Regions from separate parts of the Homo sapiens genome. Here regions 2, 3 and 4 are each linked to region 1. Evidence: fine-mapped expression QTL. A gene starts in region 1. Each other region holds a variant in brackets. All regions are shown on one strand. Distances are from middle to middle.

Evidence for each region.
Region 2: its variant is fine-mapped to the expression of MACROH2A1 in whole blood (TOPMed, PIP above 0.99).
Region 3: its variant is fine-mapped to the expression of MACROH2A1 in whole blood (INTERVAL, PIP above 0.99). The same link has a PIP of 0.9 or more in hippocampus, pancreas, sun-exposed skin, tibial artery, tibial nerve and unexposed skin.
Region 4: its variant is fine-mapped to the expression of MACROH2A1 in whole blood (TOPMed, PIP 0.96).

What each region holds. Positions count from the first base shown.
Region 1 is chr5:135,397,859-135,400,540 of GRCh38, reverse strand. It overlaps MACROH2A1 (macroH2A.1 histone), which reads left to right and starts at 1,310. Exons shown (of 9, transcript NM_138610.3): 1 at 1,310-1,479. RefSeq lists enhancers at 53-558, 559-1,064 and silencers at 965-1,424, 1,435-1,604, 1,915-1,974.
Region 2 is chr5:135,423,916-135,426,597 of GRCh38, reverse strand. No RefSeq gene overlaps it. Among named protein-coding and RNA genes, the nearest start is that of DCANP1, 22 kb to the left of the region's middle. RefSeq lists an enhancer at 391-440. The variant C/G (reference allele first, on the strand shown) is at 1,066.
Region 3 is chr5:135,333,572-135,336,253 of GRCh38, reverse strand. It overlaps MACROH2A1 (macroH2A.1 histone), which reads left to right. Exons shown (of 9, transcript NM_138610.3): 9 at 1,113-1,873. The coding sequence ends at 1,278. PITX1-AS1 (PITX1 antisense RNA 1) reads right to left here. Exons shown (of 6, transcript NR_161235.1): 4 at 2,093-2,496. Among named protein-coding and RNA genes, the nearest start is that of MACROH2A1, 64 kb to the left of the region's middle. The variant T/ATTTTT (reference allele first, on the strand shown) is at 1,444.
Region 4 is chr5:135,340,700-135,343,381 of GRCh38, reverse strand. MACROH2A1 (macroH2A.1 histone) reads left to right here. Exons shown (of 9, transcript NM_138610.3): 8 at 1-122. PITX1-AS1 (PITX1 antisense RNA 1) reads right to left here. Exons shown (of 6, transcript NR_161235.1): 6 at 1-227. Among named protein-coding and RNA genes, the nearest start is that of MACROH2A1, 57 kb to the left of the region's middle. RefSeq lists an enhancer at 1-943. The variant T/C (reference allele first, on the strand shown) is at 1,195.

The DNA.
Region 1 (2,682 bases):
GTATTTGAGCCTCACTCTTATCTCACACTTCCTATTCCCCTTCTCCGCCTTATTTTTCTCCACCCCATGGAGACCCTCTGACACATTCTCCCGTTTGTCTGTCTTTCCCCCACGAGACTGCAAACTACAGGAGGGCAGAGATTTCTGCCTGTTCTCTTGGCTGTTTCATATCCAGCACCCAAATCGATGTATGACACAAAATACGTTCTCAGTACTTAATCGAATTAACGAATGCATGAATGGCAGGTATTGGACATTGTTTTGCAAACTCTTAAAGTAAGGTGTAAAGCATCCCGGTGAGGTGGAGGTTACTGCCGCTGCGATTCCCGCGCAGCCTGAGGACTGGGGGGTGGGGGTGGGGGTCTCTAATTACCTCCATAATCCCCAGTAGCGGCACTTTAAACTTCACATCAACCCTGAGGGATGTGTATTATTATCCAAATTTAGTTCACAGCTGGATGGAGAAGTGGCTTCCGGCTCCACACTTTGGAGGGAGGGGAGTAGAGGGCAGGCCCCCATTTAAGTACCCGGGATGGGGCACCAATGCCTTCAGGCGGTAAACCAATTTAGGAAGACGTGGCGGGCTTTGTGGCGGCTCCTCCTCTTTCGGCCTGTCCGCAGTTTTTAAAAAACGTGTGTGATGATAAGGAATCACTGTCTACATTAGTAATTCCCAACTTGGGTCCGAAAGTGAACTTTTGCTGAAGCGAAGTAGCTAACCGCTTCCATGTGCAAGGCAGGTTCCAGACTTCGGGGTGAGGAGGATTAACTGAAGGACCCCAGGGGAACCGGGTGCGCAGTAATTGATCTTGGGGCAGACCAGGGCTTGGCGGTGGCCTGTATCTAAAGACAGCGGGGTCTCTGAGGCGGGGCAGGGGGGAGTTGGCATTGACTGGGGAGGGAAGAGCGATCGCTGGTAACAGCCATTGTGCCTTCCCACTGGGTTAGTGGGAAGGTTCCTAAAGATGCCGTGGCAGCGACAGTCCCGTGCTCAGAGCCAGGCACACAGTAGGCGTTCACTCGAGACGCAGAGTCTGGGACGCGCCCTGAAGAAGCTCCTCTCCAGGGGCCTGGCCCTTCCCAAGGACTGGGCTCTGGGCGTCCCCGGGGTCATGGGTCAGACCTCGCGTCCGGGGTGCGGGCTGGTGCCTGGGCGCAGAGCGGCCGGCGTCAACGGGTAGGGCGCGGGCCCGGGGTCAAGGCCGGGGCGCCGGGCGGCACGGGCGCGGAGGCCGGACGCTCGGGGCCGCGAAGGGATGTGACGAGCGGCGCGCTGTGCATTGTGGGAAGCCGGCCGCGAGGACTGGTTCCAGTTCACTCGGCAGCGGCGCCGGGCGGAGGGGGAGAGCGCGGGCCGCGCGGGCGGGAAGCGAAGAGGCGGGCGGGCCAGCGAGGAGCGCGGAGAGAAAAGGCGCGAGCGGCCAGGAGGGCTCAGGCCGAGACACCTTGCAGCTGCCGCCGCCGCCACCGAGCCGCCGCGTAAGTGCCGCGCGGGCCCCCTTGCCGCACTCCCTGTCCCCGCCGCTCGGGTCCGGCCGCGGGTGCCCGGGAGCGGCCCGGCCTGGCGCGCACCGGTGTGGTGCGGGCCGGGCTCGGGCCGCCGGGTTCGGTGTGGCCCACGCCGGGTCCTCGCGCGTGCACTACGTCCTCCCAGGCCTTGTCGGGCCGCGCGGGATTCCCTTTGGTTTTGTTCAAAAAAGAAACCTGGAAACCAACTTCTCTTCGAAACGCATCCCCCTGCCCGCGCCTGGGCGCTTTTGTGGGAAAAAAGCGGTGCTGGCGCCTACCCTGGCGACCCTTCCTGGGGCGGGCTCACGGGCCAGGCCCGAGGCCGCAGGAGGCCCCGCGGCGCTGGCTAGGCAGTCTGGGCCTGGGCACCCGGGAGCTGCTGTGAGCAGAGTTGTACTTGGTGAGGCCCCCGCCGGCCCGCGAGTTGCCGGCCCCGGCACAATAAGTCGGGCCCGAGCCCCGGGGGGCCGAGGTGTAGGCGTCTGGCTCGCTATCTGCAGGGAGGGGAAGGCGGGGGCTACTCGCGGGATTGAAGCCGGGCTGGTGCGGGGGACCGGGTTGGGGAGTGGTCCAAGGATGGGCTGGAGAGGGGCCACGGGAACCCCCGCTGCTCCCGATTGTCTCGGTATCAGCCTTTTGTTTGCTTTGTGGTAGGAAGGGTTTGCTTTTTTTAAAAGGTAACTCCGGAAGGCTGTAGGCTTCCCCGGGTGGAGAAGGCCAGCAGGAAAGAGCCTCGCTGGGGGTGGGGTGGAGTGGGGAGGTGAGTGTGCAGGATGCTGCTGGCAGTGTCACCTGACAACAGGTGTGCGACATGGCGCTCCCTACCCCCACTCCTGCAGGGGCCACAGATCACTCAAGGAGTTGGTCAGTACATTGCTTGAAAGGTTCTTTTAGACAAGATGTTAGGGGAAATGTTTCTGAGTTTCAAAGTGAGAGACTTCTGTACAAACAACTGGGACAAACCTTGAATTCAACAATTACAATGACTATAAAGGCCTTGTAAGATTTTAATGACCCAGTAAACAGCACATAAGAATAGACAATTAGAGGGGGCACTCCTGCTAGCTTCCCTCTTTTCTTCCACCTTTGTGGTTTGAGGTTTTACCGTTAAAGTAGGGGGTAAGGGAAGTGTTTTGTTCCAAAGCTCCCTGCTCCAGGGAGTCGGGCATTTTT
Region 2 (2,682 bases), 26 kb before region 1:
AATTAGGCAAATAATCTTCTCAACCTAAAGTCAGCCCCAAAGTATTTTTAAAAATCTGAGAAGCTACAGTGGCCTCTTGCCTGTTACCTATTGACTCATAAATCAGAAACAGTTTTAACAAGGGCAATTCACCTCTTTCCCAGGTCATTAGGGCAGCAGATCAATGGAGAAAGATTCATTCTTATAAAATGTGAGATTTGGTAGTCCTTTTTAAAAAACTATTGTTCTGTCTCCTCCCTTGTTGACAAAGAGCATGTAATAGCAACGTTCTGGACCCCTTTAATACAGGGGCTAACAGTTCTGTACCACCAGAGGGCGATACTATGTAATAGCTGGTGCACATAATACCTGAATCCTCATGACAGTGAGAAATGGAGTCAACATTTATAGAAAGGGGCCAGAGGCAGACACTAGAATTGTGGACAGGTTCCCGAACAATAGGATGGGAGACAGCACAGAAAGCTCCTTTCACACCTACCCCCCAGCTTCCATCTCCTTTGCAATTGTCCTCACAACTAACTCTGCCCATATTTTTCCAACACGTATAAAAATTCTCCAGCTGAAAGACCTGCTTGCATAAGGCAAGGAAAAAATGTGCTCAAGCTACCACCTACCAAAACATCCAAACACGTAGAGCTGTTAGAAAATGAAGACACTGAGAAAAAACAGAAAGAAGAAGACAGGCACACAACGGGACAGGCCCCATTTTGTTCTCTGTTGGGTCTGGGGCCTGCAAGAGTCTACAAGAAAACAGCAGTTTCTCCAGCATTACCCTGTGGTTTCCTGTTAAAACCAAGGGTTGAGAGTTCTGCTTCCTAGAATGGGGAGCTAGCTTTTTTCCAGGCCAAGCCTTTAGCTGAAAATAACTAGAAAAGGACAAAAATATGTCATTTAATCTGTGTGATGGCATTGAAGAGTAATGACAGACCTCCAGAAGCAAGATCTAGGGGAGAAGGAAGCCCAATTTTCTCTTCTTTCTTTCTTTCCTTCTTTCTTTCTTTCTTTTTTTTTCTCTTAAGACAGAGTTTCACTCTTGTTGCCCAGGCTGGAGTGCAATGGCGTAAT[C/G]TCAGCTCACTGCAACTTCCACCTCCCGGGTTCAAGCGATTCTCCTGCCTCAGCCTCCTGAGTAGTTGAGATTACAGGTGCCCACCACCATGCCCTGCTAGTTTTCTTATTTTTAGTAGAGATGGGGTTTCACCATGTTAGCCAGGCTGGTCTTGAACTCCTGGTCTTGGCCTCCCAAAGTGCTGGGATTATAGGCGTGAGCCACCACGCCCAGCCAAGGAAGCCCAATTTTCAGCAGTCCTTCTCCTTGGGATATTTGCCATTTCAAACTTTTTGGTTGAAAAGCTGGTCAGAAAGGTCCAGCTGAGAAGCTGAGAAGAACTTTTGGCCATCTCTCACCTGGGTGCAGGTACAAAAATTAGAATTCAAGATTTGCCAATCAGGAGAGGCTATGATAAGCAGCTCAGGTTTTAAGCTGGGATCTCGAATATCTACAGCATAGGAATAAGAGAATCTTGGCCCAGGTTTCCTAGAATGCAGAGCCCAAAGAAAAAGCTTGCATGCTTCCTAGGAAATACAATTGCAGGGAAGCTGGAGTGAGGAAGAAAGGTGAGTGAAGCAGAGTAGGATGAACATATATAAGGAAGTGGATCACTGAGCTTTACAACAATCACAGCTGACTGCTCCATTTCATGGGAAATGCTATGTGTCTCTGAACAGTCCTTCCAAGGGTATGCAGGTTGAGAATTTTCCTGCCAGTGCCTTGCATCTCTTGTCCCCTAGAGTAAAAGTTCACTCCATAGAGGGTTAACTCCTACATTTCCATATTATACGCCAATCCCTTTAGCAGTGCCAAGACAGACATATCCCACACCCTTTACATCTGGGTGTAAAAGCTGTAGGGGAAGCCAGAGACACTTCACAGCAGACTCATGTGTTAGAATAATGCTGACTTGAATGCCTTTTTCAGAGTCAGTAACCCTTGTGTTGGCCAGGGCTGAACAGGTAACCAATAGCCCTAAAGACAGGCGAAACTCATAGGATCTGAGAAAGAATGTAAGAGGTATTTGATACAACGAGTGGACCAGAACTAGACCAACTCTAGCCAAATCTAGCTTCCAATATTAAATCATTTCAATCTCTGATTGGATTATGGAGATCTGCCCCTGGAAAGGCAAGACTAAGATAAAGTCCAGTGAGGGACTCCCTCTGGGTGCAAAATGCAAGGGGGCTCAAAAAAAACTTAATACTTGTCATAAATAATCTATAATTGCAATATTTTAAAAATCAAAATTAATGCAAAATATTTATGACAAAGAAATATCAAAATGTTTGGAAAATGGTGTTTTGATTGGAAACTGCAAGATTAATGACAAAAGGAACTGCGCAGAAATAAGAAACTTTACTAGTGAAGCTGTTCCTCACAGGGATATAGGTTAACAATTCTGAACCTGCTGCACATATATGATGGGAATGAACAAATGAGTAAATGAAACAGAGAGAGGGGGTGGAAGCCAGGTTTCCCACTGTTAGAGCTAGAGGTTGCAGAGACGCATGTGGGGAAGGCTGGAATGAAGCATGTGGTTGTAGATTAGTGCAGACAGCAGTATGAACTCATGAGTAGCTTAAAATAGATACAGATGGAGAGAGACAGAAATAATTGCAGACATGTATGTA
Region 3 (2,682 bases), 64 kb after region 1:
AGGAGGTTCAGAGTGCACAGGCATGCAGTGAGTGAAGCTAGCAGTACTACAGTAGATACCCACCTTACCACCTCTGGAAACCCCTCCACCTGGCAGCAGGTGCCTCATGTGAGGGAGAGCTCCAGCTGAAATAGGCGGGTTGGCCCAGCGCTTTGGACACCAACACGCCCACAGGCTCAGGCGGATCTGTGACTGTAGATCTGCCAATGAACAAAGAGCCTACCCATGAGAGCTGGCCCCAGACTCACCCTCAGTATCCTTAACTGTAAAATGGGACCAGTAAGGGATGTGAATCCAGGGCCACTGGCTCTAAACCCAGGTTTTCACTAGACCAGGCAAGCTGCCCATCTCCTCCGGGGTCCCCTGGGCTACCCACATGCCATGCTGACCAGGAGCAGCCTCAGGCACACCACAGAGCAGTGAGGGCCAGTCTTGCCAGTCCTGATTTCACATTTTTAAGTCCAGAGCACCTACCTCCAAAAATTGCCACGACATTTATTTGAAGTGGAAATGTGTGTGGATTCAAACACATTTGGCTTGGAAACTTGGATGATAGCCCAGAGTTGAAGAGCCCACAGCTCCCTGCGTTCTGGCCTCTGGGGTGGTACCGCTGGTGTGTGTTAGAGGGTGGATTCCTGGGCGGTGGCCCCTGGTGTGAAGGGGTAACTCTTCTGTGTGGGTGGATAGAGGTCAGTGCCTTCCCAGAGAACCTGCAGCCATCCCCTGGGGCTGACATCAAGAGCCTGGGCTATGGCTCAGGCACTGTGCTAGTCAAAGGTATCATGGAAAAAGAAAATCAGGAGCTTACACTGTACTTCGGGGGCTTAATGCACACCACAAAACACTATTCTGTTTGCTGGCTACTGCCTTCTCTAAAAGCACATAGCACATCCTTCTGCAGGTGCCAGCTCTCTGCCCAGTTGTCTGTCCCCCATCCCATCTTCTGGGCACTGGGCTTTCCCACACTGGCGTACAAGCAGACACGGGGCTCAACAGACACCGACCCAACACAAGGCAAGCTGCAGCACAGAGGGAGGTGGCCTGTAAGGTGGGGCAGGTCCTGCAGCCCCCGTGGCATCCCAGTTGCTGAGTGCTTATCTTCTCTTCTCCAGGAACGGTTTTCCAAAGCAGACAGCAGCTCAGCTGATTCTGAAGGCCATCTCCAGTTACTTCGTGTCTACAATGTCCTCTTCCATCAAAACGGTGTACTTCGTGCTTTTTGACAGCGAGAGTATAGGCATCTATGTGCAGGAAATGGCCAAGCTGGACGCCAACTAGGCTGAGCAATGACAGAACCAGCTGCACCATGTACCCCACCTTCAGTTTAAAAGAAAAAAAAAATCCCCTTCACTCCTACTGGGAGGTGGGACCCCTTTCATTTTCAGTTTTGCTCATCTAGGGAAAATAAGGCTTTGGTTTCCAGTTTAATTGTTTTTGACCTTC[T/ATTTTT]AAAATGTTTTTATGTTAGCACTGATAGTTGGCATTACTGTTGTTAAGCACTGTGTTCCAGACCGTGTCTGACTTAGTGTAACCTAGGAGATTTTATAGTTTTATTTTAATGAAACCCTGATTGACGCACAGCAGTGGGGAGAACAGCGTCTTTTACCTGTCACCGAAGCCAGGAAGCCCCGTTTGTAAGCGTGTGTTGTGGTGCTTTATTGTACATCCTCCAGTGGCGTTCTTTTTACTCTAATGTTCTTTTGGTTTCCCCCCTCAGAAGAATCATGAATTTGCAACAGACCTAATTTTTGGTTACTTTTTGTCTTATTGATGGATTTGAAAATGAAAGATTTAATAAGGCAAAGCAGAATCTGTTGTCCTTAATTATATTTGCAATTTGGAATTTGTGTGAGTTGATTTAGTAAAATGTTAAACCGTTGTTGTGACTGGTGTGTTCCAGTTATTGTGCCCGTGAGTCACAGGTCTTAAGTCGGCTTCTGCAGTCCCAGGATGTGGGGGCAGGGCAGTCCATCCCCCTCAACCCCCACCCTGCTCCCACAACTCCTTGGATGCTCCACAGTGTTCACTGCAACCTGGGTGGGTGTGGGCCATCTGCTGGCCCCAGTGGTTTGTAGAGAGAATTTTTATAAAGTCTCACCTTTTGGTTCTGTGTGACCCTTGGGCCAGGGTGTTATCCCCATTCCCCGTTCCACAGATGAAGGAGGGAGTGTATCCAAAGCCGTGCAGGTGGCATGTGGCAGGCTCCAGACCCTGAGCCCAGCTCTCTCCTACCATTGTCCCCTTCTGACAGTCTGTGACTTAGGGCTGGGCCTGGCCACTTGCTGATGAAGCTGCTGGAGCCTCATTCCCTCTGCCGAGGCTGCTGGGTCTGTCATCCCTGCAGGACAGGATCCCTGGCAGAAGGGTGCGTGGAGCTTTCCAAGGAGAAGCCGCCACAGCCAAGGCTCCTGGGATGTGCTGGCAGCTTTCACGTGCCTTCTCACCGCCAAGGCTGTTGAGGGATGTTGATTATCTAGGAAGACCTCAGCCAAGCCAGAGTAGCTAAAATATATGTTAGCAAAACATGGACACTTTTTGCTTCAAAGGGCACTTACACCTTAACCTAAATTTGCCTAAAATACACAGAAGACTCTTTCCGTCTCTTGAAAGAAAGAAAGAGGAAAAAAGAAAAGAGAAAGAAAAGAAAGAAGCCTGCGTCTAAAGCAGACTTTAACCAGGAAGAAATAT
Region 4 (2,682 bases), 57 kb after region 1:
AGTCCAGTTTGGGGTGCAGACAAGTGTGAAGAACTTCTGGAAAAGACAGTGAAAAACTGCTTGGCCCTGGCTGATGATAAGAAGCTGAAATCCATTGCATTTCCATCCATCGGCAGCGGCAGGTAGGGGCACATGCTTGTTACGTATCGGTCATGGGTGTGTCTCTCTGCGCACACATGGCCCATAATTGTGGTGCTCTCACTCTGTGCAAGGCCCACGGAGGCTGCCTTAACCAAGGAGACCAGAAGCACAACACAGGGAAGAATGCAGACATTAAATGATGGTGAGGGACAATTAGAGAGACCCAAATCCCAAGGATGATATAAAACTTAAGTTTTGATAGCAAATGTCATCACAGAAGGGGAACCCAGTGTGTACTGGGACCACAGAAATGGTACCTCAGAGAGTAAGTTTTGAGGGGCACAGTGACTTGGGTGGAGAAGATCTGGAGGCGTGAATACAGGGATACAAACGAACAGCTTGGCTGTCTCAGAATAAGGCTATAGCTGTGTTATGGTCTGTCCCCCAAACCACAGTATTCTTTGGATAAAGCCCTCTGCCCCTTTCCTTTCTACTCACAAGTATATTTCACCTCCTGAGAACCTGCATCTCTACCTGACTCCCTGTCTTACTGCCCTAGGGTAACCCTGCTGGCCTGCTAATGAGGTAATGGGACCTGGTGGAACGGAATGGGGAATTACGTGAGATTGAAACAGGGCTGGGCCCTACTCCACTTCCTGTCCCAGAAAATCCCCAGGTAGACTCACCAAGGTCTTCACGACCAACACAGTTGCCCCTAAGACATACACATACCCGGAGGACCACCACAGGAGAAGTCTAGTTTTTCGACAGCTGATGATGCAGGTAGGGCTCAGGGCAACCCCCACAATACCTACCTGGTTGTACACCCCACACATGTCAGCAAATAACCTATCAGGTTCCTGCCTGTTGGAGCAGCACTGCACTCTGGCTTAGGGGTCAGGCCTGGAGTTGCATCCTGGCTTGGCCACTAACCCGGTGAGTGATGACATGTAAATTAACCCCCATTCTGAGAAGTTGGCATAATAATCCCCCCATGCAGTATCTCAGGGTTGCTCTAGAAATTAAAGGAGCTCTTAGAAGGCAGAGTGCTTTCAGAAGTGTGTCCCATGATGCAGACATGAGGACCTGTCAGGGCAGAGCCACCTCTGAGAT[T/C]GTGTCCCACTGCCCATTGCTAGGGTCCTCCCTACCAAGGGTCTAAGTCCAAGAGTCCAAGGCCTCTGGAAGGCTCGAGGTCTGCATTGGGCACTGAAGCAAAGAGAAACTGGCCTTTAGAGGCTGTAGCTGTTAACAACTTGCGCCCAAGAGGAGCCATAACCTGGGGTTCTGTATTGGCAGGTGGCTTGCTTTGGACAGAGTACCTGCCACTGCTCCTGGGGCTTCCCATCCCAGCTTGTGAGCCTTCTGGGGTCTCTGCCCATCAGCCCCTCCCAGCACCCAAGGAAGGCAGGGCTGTGCAGCATCAACTGCCTATGACACTGCAGGCTGTCCCTTCTGGGCGAGCCTGAGCAACAGTCCTCAGAACCATGTCCTGAACTGACAGCTGCTCTCTGCAAAGCACTTTCCTTCCAAACTTTCTAGAGGATAGAGAGTAGATTTTGCCATTTTCCGCTTAGGCAGGCCTCGTGATTTTGCCTCCTGCATGCTGCCATCACTGAGGTCCCACACCTCAAGTACTGGTGGCAGAACTAGTACAGAGTGGGCTTCCTGTCACTTGACATTCTGCCTAGTAAAAGGCCTTGTCCACAGGCAGATGGGCACTGCCACCGTTCCCCAGGGCTTTCTATGGCCAAGGCCATGTGTGACTGGCAGGACCCACCAGTACCAGGCTCTGGGGAAAGATCTCTGGTTGCACCTGAACCTTCTCTGGAGCCTGTATCACTGCCCGCCACCCGCCGCCACCCCCACTTCTCCCAGTCAAGGGCAAAACAGCAGAATGAGCATTTCCCCAGCAACCCCTCACCAGTTGTTGAGCTATGGGCAGGCTTGCCTCCCCCTTCCCTGGCCTCACATCTCTGGGCTGTCTGGTCCTGGGGTTCTGTGAGTGAGGCCCCTCAGCTCTCCTATCCTGTGTGACCTTTGGTTAAATGAATCAGCCTCTCTGCCCTGGTCTGCCTTATCAGCAAGTGAGGCTATAGGGACTGCCCATCCTCACAAATGGTTCTGAGGCTCAGTTAATTAGTGCTTTCAATGCACTTTGATCTGCTCTGATGAAAGGTGCTTCCGCAGAGGGAGGCAATAGGAAACTTTATTGGAGGTAATAATTTCACAACCTTTCATATGGGTATTGGGAAATTTTTAATTGAAGCATAAAAGTAATTCTCATAAAAGAGCATCTGTTATTACAAACTTATTTACATTTTTCATGGAGTAAAAAGTAGGAATAAAAATAATCAATTGAAAGCTTGAAGAGGGGGAAATGCCTAAGGCAGCACATGTGTACAGCTACCCAGGCCACATCTGCCAGGCAGACCTCACCCCATAGAGCTGTGTAAACAGCTGCCCTCTCTTTCATGAGTAAAAAAAAATGGGATTACACCAGAGCCGGCCAGTAAATCACAGTGGGTTTTAGGAGGGGAAATAAAACAGCTTGTTTGTTGCATCCAGTGTCTCTGGCACGGAAGTAATGTTGGAATTAAAACA